Linked DNA regions of Homo sapiens. The protein of the gene in region 1 interacts with the protein of each later gene in a pairwise test. Each region holds a gene or a part of one and is shown in the gene's direction. Other genes may lie near its edges.

Region 1 (4,660 bases):
CGCTACAACGGCCAGGTCTGCGGCGGCCCGGGTGAGCCCGTGGGTCCCTGCTGGACAACGGCCGTCCTGCGGCACAGACTTGGTGTTGGGGGGTGCGTTCTGGACCATTCAACGAGTGGAACAGAAAGGGGGGATCCTGAGGACAGACAGTGCAAGTCTCGCCCAGCCACCGGGCGTCAGCAGGAACTTGGATGGCCCTGCACCCCGCCCTGCCTCAGTTTCTGTGTCCATGAGGACAAGGCGTCCTTGTGGGGAGGGCCCACAGGAGGAACGGTCATAGCCCTATTGAGGTCCCATTCACAGCAGGGCAGGGGAGGTCCAGACTGGCCAGGAGGCGGCCACGTGGCTGGCGGGGGCAGAAGGGCCTGGCTAGTGGCCCCATGCCTTTTGCTCAGGAACATCCCCCAGGCTGGAGGAGGCAGGCGGGCCGGAGGGAGCAACCGCAGTGGGGTTTCGGGCGGGTCTCGGTTCCCAGGCCAAGCAGGAGCTTAGCCGTGCTGCCCCGTCTTCCAGGGAGGGGGCTCTGCTTCTGCGGGAAGTGCCGCTGCCACCCGGGCTTTGAGGGCTCAGCGTGCCAGTGCGAGAGGACCACTGAGGGCTGCCTGAACCCGCGGCGTGTTGAGTGTAGTGGTCGTGGCCGGTGCCGCTGCAACGTATGCGAGTGCCATTCAGGCTACCAGCTGCCTCTGTGCCAGGAGTGCCCCGGCTGCCCCTCACCCTGTGGCAAGTACATGTGAGTGCAGGCGGAGCAGGCAGGGCGGGCAGGGATCCCCACTCCCCGGCCACCTACCCAGCAGCCGGGCTCACTCGGGGACCCCAGTGAGCACCTCTGCACCGCGGGGTTCTCTGCGGGTGCGTCTGGACTGAGGGGCCCTCCGCGGCCGCCGTGCCCCTGTGTCCCTCCTCCCTCCTGTGCGCACCTGCCGCGGGCCCTGGGATCAGGCTTCCAGTTCACCCGCTGCACCCGCATCTGCCCCACTTGGGCCCCCTCCTTGGCCTGAGGGCGCCCCAACCCCACCTGCCCCCCCTGGTGGACACACACCCAAGCCCGAGCCCCCGTTGCCGGAGCCCCCGCACACCCTGGCACCGATGCTCACACCTGGCTCCCCGCAGCTCCTGCGCCGAGTGCCTGAAGTTCGAAAAGGGCCCCTTTGGGAAGAACTGCAGCGCGGCGTGTCCGGGCCTGCAGCTGTCGAACAACCCCGTGAAGGGCAGGACCTGCAAGGAGAGGGACTCAGAGGGCTGCTGGGTGGCCTACACGCTGGAGCAGCAGGACGGGATGGACCGCTACCTCATCTATGTGGATGAGAGCCGAGGTGAGGCCGCTGGGGTGCAGCGGGGACCGGCTCCAGAGCTCCGGCTGCGGGGTCTCCGCAGAGGCGAGGGTGGTGCGGAAGGAGGATCTCACCTCCAGTGTTGTGGGCCCAGCAGGGTGGATGAGCCATGCGGGATGCCCTTGGCATTGCAAGGAGGCCAGAGGCCGGTCCCCTCACCCCCAGCAGCCTCCCCTTTCCCTCCCCTCCTCACCTGACCCCACATCAAGCTGGGCAGCAGACGGCCTGCTCCCTGGGGGCACCACTGCTCCACACCGGGCAGGCCCACCAGCATGCCACACGGCCCGGGCCATCTCCCGCTGGATGCCTCATGGGGCAAGGCTTGCAGTTGCAGGTCCCCAGGGGTGGCCCGCGGTCAGGTTGCTGCGTGAGGCTCCTTTGAGGGGATTGGGAGATCCTGGTGCTCGGCTCTCAGCCCTGGAGGGGCCCAGGGCCACCAGGCACCACCGTCCCCATCACTCGTTCGGCTCCAGTCCAGTCGGAACCAGTCCCAGCCCCACAGTGACCTTGGTGGCACTGACCCTGTCTCATTCGGCTCCAGTCGGAACCAGTCCCAGCCCCACAGTGACCTTGGTGGCACTGACCCTGTCTCATTCAGCTCCAGTTGGAACCAGGCCCAGCCCCACGGTGACCTTGGTGACACTGGCCCTGCTTCTTCAGGTCTCATGTTCCACAGGCTCCTGAGAGGCAGAGGGGCTGGGGCTGGGGGGCCGCTGGCGGACTCCATCAGGCATGGCCAGCAGCCGGCCAGGACTCTTGCAGAACTGAGACCTGGGAGCTCCTCCCTCACCAGGAAGGGACCCGAGGCAGGCGGCGGGGGTCTCTGAGCCTGTAGGTGACATGCCTGGAGCTCACAACCCACATGTGGGCCTGGGGCTGCAGACCCCCACCTGCCAGGGCAGGAACCCCTGCGGGCCACTTTGAGGGACAGACTTGGGTCACGTCTGGTTTGTGCAATCCTGGCCAAGTCACTTCACCTTTGAGGACAGGTGAAGGAAGGCAGGTCCCCCAGGAAAGGCAGGATGGCAGGAGGGGGCACGGGGAGTGAGAGTGCAGGTCAGGATGGCAGGAGGGGGCACAGGGAGTGAGGGTGCAGATCAGGATGGCAGGAGCAACCACAGGGAGTGAGGGTGCAGGTCAGGATGGCAGGAGGGGTACAGGGAGTGAGGATGCCAGACCAGGCCAGGGACTGCACTGAACGCTAGTGTCTGTCCCAGGGTCAGCAGCTGTGGGCCTGGCCCACTATGGCCCACAGTCCCCATGCTCAGGAGGTGGGCACAGCTGCCGTGGGAACCAGGACCTTGCGTTGCTCATCCTGGCACCGGCCTCACCTGCTGAGCTCTGGTCTCTGGTCTTGTCCTTGACGACCACAAATCACTTTCACAGTATGGGGAGTGAACTCCAGCAGGGACCCTGAGCCTGGTTCTGAACTCTGCTGTAGGAGAGCGGGGTCCCTCGCACTGTGTCCTACCCCCCAGTATTAGCACTCTGTCCTGGCTGCCCGGTACCCTGGCCCTGCCTTCTTCTCTGTCAGCAGGGGTGGTGGCAATGGCCCTTAGGTTTCATTTGGAACCACAGGGCCTGGCCTGGAATCCAGCAGGGGCTGGGCCAGGTTCTCACTGACCCCTGGCCATGGTGATGGATGGTGAGCCGGGGCCCTGGGAACCTCCGTCTCTCTAAGTGCTGTGTTGTGGGGTGACCTCGGACCTGTGGGCACACGGCTCAGTGAGATGGGGCTGGACTGACGCTCAGGTGTGCTGCTTCTTCCCTAGAGTGTGTGGCAGGCCCCAACATCGCCGCCATCGTCGGGGGCACCGTGGCAGGCATCGTGCTGATCGGCATTCTCCTGCTGGTCATCTGGAAGGCTCTGATCCACCTGAGCGACCTCCGGGAGTACAGGCGCTTTGAGAAGGAGAAGCTCAAGTCCCAGTGGAACAATGTAAGTGGCCGTCCTTGGGGGTCCCACGCAGAGGGGCACGTGCGTCCCACACTATGCGACCTCCTGCTGCGGGAGGCCGTGGACACCCGTGTGTGGCTGCACCCCGGCCTCCCCAGGCAGCTTGTCCTCTGGGCGTCCGCCGCTGTGGGTGAGCTTGGCTGCCGGTGCTGGGACCCTGGGGGGGCTGCCCCACGTCTAGCTCTTCCTCAAAGTGACGGCTTCCATGCGGGGAGTGTCCTCAGGGAGAAAGATTCTGCTCTGAAAACCTCCCACACTCACAAGCCCCTGTTTGCATTTCCCACCAGGATAATCCCCTTTTCAAGAGCGCCACCACGACGGTCATGAACCCCAAGTTTGCTGAGAGTTAGGAGCACTTGGTGAAGACAAGGCCGTCAGGACCCACCATGTCTGCCCCATCACGCGGCCGAGACATGGCTTGCCACAGCTCTTGAGGATGTCACCAATTAACCAGAAATCCAGTTATTTTCCGCCCTCAAAATGACAGCCATGGCCGGCCGGGTGCTTCTGGGGGCTCGTCGGGGGGACAGCTCCACTCTGACTGGCACAGTCTTTGCATGGAGACTTGAGGAGGGAGGGCTTGAGGTTGGTGAGGTTAGGTGCGTGTTTCCTGTGCAAGTCAGGACATCAGTCTGATTAAAGGTGGTGCCAATTTATTTACATTTAAACTTGTCAGGGTATAAAATGACATCCCATTAATTATATTGTTAATCAATCACGTGTATAGAAAAAAAATAAAACTTCAATACAGGCTGTCCATGGAAACTGGGCACTGTGTCCGCTGTATTCCCCCGACTGGCAAGGTGGCCAGGCACACGTGGGCCCTGTCCTGCCCGCTGACCTTTGCCACACAGGCACACAGCTGGCTTCAGACCATGGGGCAGGTTCTGTTTTCCCTTTTCCTTCCTCACCTGCTGGTCTATACAGAGCCCCGCTCTGAGGCCCTGTCCCAAATCCTAGGTGCATTTCCGTAAACGGTGGTGGCCCCACCAAAGAGGTGCCTGCGGCGGAGCCTGGCCAGGGCAGAGGCAAAGCAGGAAAGCGGGTACCTGTCTGCCCTCCCTCCAGCCATCTACACCTCCCCTCCAGCCATCTACACCTCCTCTCCAGCTCTACACCTCCCCTCCAGCCATCTACACCTCCCCTCCAGCCATCTACACCTCCCCTCCAGCAGTCTACACCTCCCCTCCAGCCGTCTACACCTCTTCTCCAGCCGTCTACACCTCCCCTCCAGCAGTCTACACCTCCCCTCCAGCCATCTACACCTCTTCTCCAGCCATCTACACCTCCCCTCCAGCAGTCTACACCTCCCCTCCAGCTGTCTACACCTCTTCTCCAGCCGTCTGCACCTCCCCTCCAGCAGTCTACA
Region 2 (4,718 bases), on another chromosome or scaffold:
GACAGATGGGAAGAGAGAATGTAAAGAATATGTGCATAGGAAACAAGAGTGATCGGGTGGCAGTTGAAAGTTAAGGAGCTAATTTGTTTTCTTCTTCAAACTGTATTCCCTTGTAATGGTGGTACTTTATGCACTCTTTCAAACAGAACAAACAGTTAAGAAATAACAAAGGAAAATAAATGTTCATGGTATCAGATAGGCTATAGCCTGAAAGTATCAATTAAACTTTCGAGTCCTAGCTTCAGGCTGAGAATCAAGCATTTTCTGCAGTCCTTAGGTATGAGATTCGAAAAATAAAGAAAGGAACCCAGAACTCAGGAGGCTGGTGACGAAGACTAGTAGGAAGGAGTCTAGTTGGTATATTTGGGCTATTGAGCCACACAGAGCAAGGTAAAAGCCAAGTTTCTACAACATGAAAGCAAGTTGGGAAAAAGAAATCTTCAACCTATATTCCCTAAGATCAGCAATGTCCCTGGGAGAGGATATGGAACTGATGAGTGGCAGCCAATGCTTCAACAATAGGGGAGGAAGAATAGAGAGGATGAGAATCAGTTGTAGCTAGCCGGGCAAGAACAAACCTACAGGGATATAGAAGAGCTCTGGTGTTAGATGGCCTGTGCCCAAATCTTGCCTCCACTACCTGCTAGATAAGCAATCTTGCACAAGCTATTTCACCTCTCCAAGCCTCATTTTTCTTATCTTCAAAGTTCAGCACCCATCTCTGAGACTGCAGATTAAATGAGACTGTCACAAAGCTCTTAATAGAATGCCACATTCATAGTACGTGCCCAATCAATGTTAGCAATGATTATCATTTTATCATGAACTACTGTTTGATTCTGGAACCTAGAATTTCTCTAAGCCTGACACTTTTTCTCCTTCTCTGGCTTTAAAGATGTGCTGGAAGGCTCACCCTGACTCCACTGCAGGGATTCAGCTTCAACATTATTCCCCTCATAGGACATGTAACCTCACCCACACTTCTACCCAGATTTCAAAATTCCAAGAAATGAAAACTATCTCCTTAAACAAAGAGAACTTTAGGTTTAATAATTCTTCAGATAAAGTATCTCATGCCCGGAGAGCATGAGAAACTAGACTAAGGCACAGATCTAGGAGTAGAAATAAAATGGAGGTCCAAACATGGATCGACTATTATGGAACACCTGATAAAACTCAGAGAGTTACAACAAAAGACACTCACGTGTGTCATTCAAATCCTCACAAGAGTCCTTCAGGATAGTGTCATTATCCTTATTTTACAGATAAGGAAACTGGGGATGAATGAGGGAAAGTATCCTGCCTACGGCCAGCTCATCAATATCAGAACTGGGCTTCCAATGAATATTAGATAAAACTGATATGTTTTGGGAGTTTATCACATGCCTCCCCCTATGCTGAGTCCATTATATGTGTCATCTTATCCAACCTGTACCACAAACCTATGAAGTGGTGAAAATACCTTGCCCAGGGTGAGTTTAGCAGTAACTGGTGGATATGGGATCTGAACACACGACTGGACTCCAAGACATATGGTCAGATGTGCAACTAGATGCCTAGGCATTGGACTCCCATCCCAGTGCACTTTTCCATCTCCCTCACTAGGAAGAGATTCTAGGTGTCATTTCCAATTTTTACATGTTCTTCACTCCACCCAAGAGAGGCCAGAACCATTCCTAAAGCACCAACACATTGAGGCAAAATGTCAGGCAGCAGAGCTGTGGCACCTTTCAAGGATGACAAGCCTTTAACTAAACTCTGGCCTTCAGTAGGGAGAATGTTGAGCTGAAAACAAATCTGGGCAACATTTCAGGTGCTGAGCCTTGTTGCTGACACCACAGAGGCCCAGCAATGCTGCTGAGTTAGTGGTGGCAGACAACTTGCTCCTGGAATCTACAAGGGAACTGGAAATGTTAGGAAGGAAGAAAGGAAGGAAGAGGAAGAGGAGGAGAATTAACATGGCATAGAGAAAAAAATATCACAAGCGTCTGAGCCAGACAAGTCTCAATCCAGTCATGTAAACACAGGCTGTTAATATTTGCTACCATATATTGAACACATTCTAAGTGCCAGGCTAAGTACTTTATGTGACTATTTCATTCAATAAAAGTCACTTGAGCTTATTAGCCCCAGGTTTCTAATGTATAAAATTGATTTAATAACATGTAAGTTACAGGGTTGTTATAAGGATTAGAGCTGCAATGGTCTAATGCTTGGAATTCAGCAGGAGTTAAGTAAATGTTTACATTACTAATTACGAAGCCAATATAAGCAAGGAGGAAGATTCCGGATGGGACAGGCCATCTCGCTATAGGAAAGGAAAGTGGAACAGCATTCATCCTCAACATTTTTACGAAGACAAAATGAAGACTGGAGTAGAAGACTGATCAGTGCAGGTGTAGCATAAAAGTGTAATCCTGGAAGATGTGGTGTGAGAAGGTAGCACAAGTGAAGCAGAGATACAGGAGATAGGGAAGGGAAGCTGGAAGCAGAGGTCACTGGAGGGAGAGGGAGATGGACACATTCAGGGCTACAAAGCAAGTTCTATGTGATTTGCTCACCTCTCAATTGTGGGACCCCTCAAAATGTGTACAGTACTCTCCCAGTGACATGCTTCTTGACCACAATGGATGAACTGTGCCCAGCATGCCCACTTTCCAATGCTCCACTGATCCCCATGTTTTGTTTCTGAAGGACAACCAGCCTTGGAATAATGGCAAATACCTTCTTAAGTTCCTACAAAGTATGGTCCCTGGGAAGTTTATGTCTGTAAGTCAAACCTTGGGAAGTAACTGAGTTTTGATGCCTCTTCCAGCATCATCAGCATCATGCTATTACAATCCCAAACCATGGGGGTTTCTCACAGCTTTACACCAAAGGGCATCACTATCCCTCAAAGAGAGAAACCTGGACACATGTACCAAAACGAAGATTACCTGCAGAACGGGCTGCCAACAGAAACCACCGTTCTTGGGGTAAGTCCACCTCATTATAAGGGGAATACTGAGAAAATACTTTGTAAATGTATCTAGACTACAGATCTACAGTGGGTCTGGGAAACTCTTTCACTCTTTTCTGGCTGACTCCAGGCTAATGAGGACATGAAATGGAGCTTTAAGGGAAGACTCTTAAAGCTCTGCAGCAGTTTCTAGAAACTAAAACCACTAGATCTTTTTCACTAGCATGCTTCACAATTAACAGGTTAGTCTTTCTTATTTTATTTATTTATATATTTATTTATTTTGAGACAGAATCTCCCTCTGTCACCCAGCATGGAGTGCAGTGGCACGATCTCAGCTCACTGCAACCTCCGCCTCCTGGGTTCAAGTGATTCTTCTGCCTCAGCCTCCCGAGTAGCTGGGACTATGGGTGCACGCCACCACGCCCGGCTAATTTTTGTATTCTTAGTAGAGATGGGGTTTCACCATACTGGCCAGGCTGGTCTTGAACTCCTGACCTTGTGATCTGCCCGCCTTGGCCTCCCAAAGTGCTGGGATTACAGGCATGAGCCACTGTGCCCAGCCACAAATTAGTCTTTCTTATTTTGTCATTAGTACAGTAAAAATTTTCTATTTAACCATATGGATTTTACTCAATATGATTAAATTAACTTTGAGCTTATTTTTCAAATATTTTGAGATGAGACGATCAAGACTAATCTCATGACCCATTTTTCCCCGTTCATATGAGTAACTATAAGACATCCAAGTGTCCCAGATCATCATCCCTCATATCCAGAACTTTAATCTCCATGTGGTTTTGAATACCCTCTTATAATACCCAGGTCCTATTCACTGCCTATTTAGATGGATCTCCCTGCCCTGTTTCTTTACAATCTATTCTTAGTACAGCAGGTAGGGTACTCTTTTAAAAATGAAAGTTAGATCATGTATTCTCCTGGCTCAAAATTATCCAGTGGGATTCCTTTTTTGCTCAAAATGAAAAGCAAAGTTGGTAAAACATAGCCTAAAAATCCCTACATAGTTTGTACCATGCCTCCAGTACTTCACAAGCCTCATGTCCTACTACTTTGCTCTTAACTCTATTCTGCCTTGCATGGAACTTGTCTGTACCTTTACAGACAAGACATAGTACACATATAAGCTCTCCAATGGTAGTGATTTTCATTTGCTTCATTCCCTCGTGCCTGGCACACAACATACCTGTTGTGGTATTCAATAACTGTTGATGATGTGAATGGTTGACTTCTTTTTTTATTTCTCCTATGTTTGCATCATCTTTCAATTGCACATGCATTAAACTATGAGCAAAAGCATGGGCTTTAGAGCAAGCTAACAGCTAAACTTCAGTTCTTCCACTTGCGAAATAATTATTATTAAAATCCAATGATGAACAAAATAAGATGAATTACAGCAGAAGAGATGACCTGCTCTATCTAATTTCAACTGAAAAATCTCTTCATTAACACTCCTGTGAAAAGTTTGCTCTCTATTTCCACCTCACTGGACAACTTTTTTATCTACTTTTCAAGAAAATAAATTTAAAAACTGTCAAGTATCTTTTTCAAAAAAAGTTAAAATGTGTGTATGATCACTTTCCGATTTGCTGGTTTAATAATCCTATCAGAAAAGAAGAGGTTAGCTATACATGACTTTCTCTAGAAGCATATCGATTGGCTCCTTGTAACATTTTTCCTCTTTAATATAACAAATTATAATGTATTTTATACTCTTTATACTTTACCGTGTGCATTCAAA

What was found. The genes of interacting proteins can lie anywhere in the genome.
Region 2: the proteins of ITGB2 (region 1) and MS4A7 interact in binary tests that used the Homo sapiens proteins (3 or more experiments, as listed by UniProt).

Annotation. Positions count from the first base shown.
Region 1 is NC_000021.9:44,885,349-44,890,008, reverse strand, and holds the end of ITGB2 (integrin beta-2 isoform 1 precursor), read left to right. Parts: coding exon 1-31; intron 32-513; coding exon 514-733; intron 734-1,113; coding exon 1,114-1,316; intron 1,317-3,106; coding exon 3,107-3,273; intron 3,274-3,578; coding exon 3,579-3,641; 3' UTR 3,642-4,056; downstream 4,057-4,660.
Region 2 is NC_000011.10:60,380,314-60,385,031, forward strand, and holds part of MS4A7 (membrane-spanning 4-domains subfamily A member 7), read left to right. Parts: intron 1-2,815; 5' UTR 2,816-2,828; coding exon 2,829-2,975; intron 2,976-4,718. UniProt on the Homo sapiens protein: May be involved in signal transduction as a component of a multimeric receptor complex.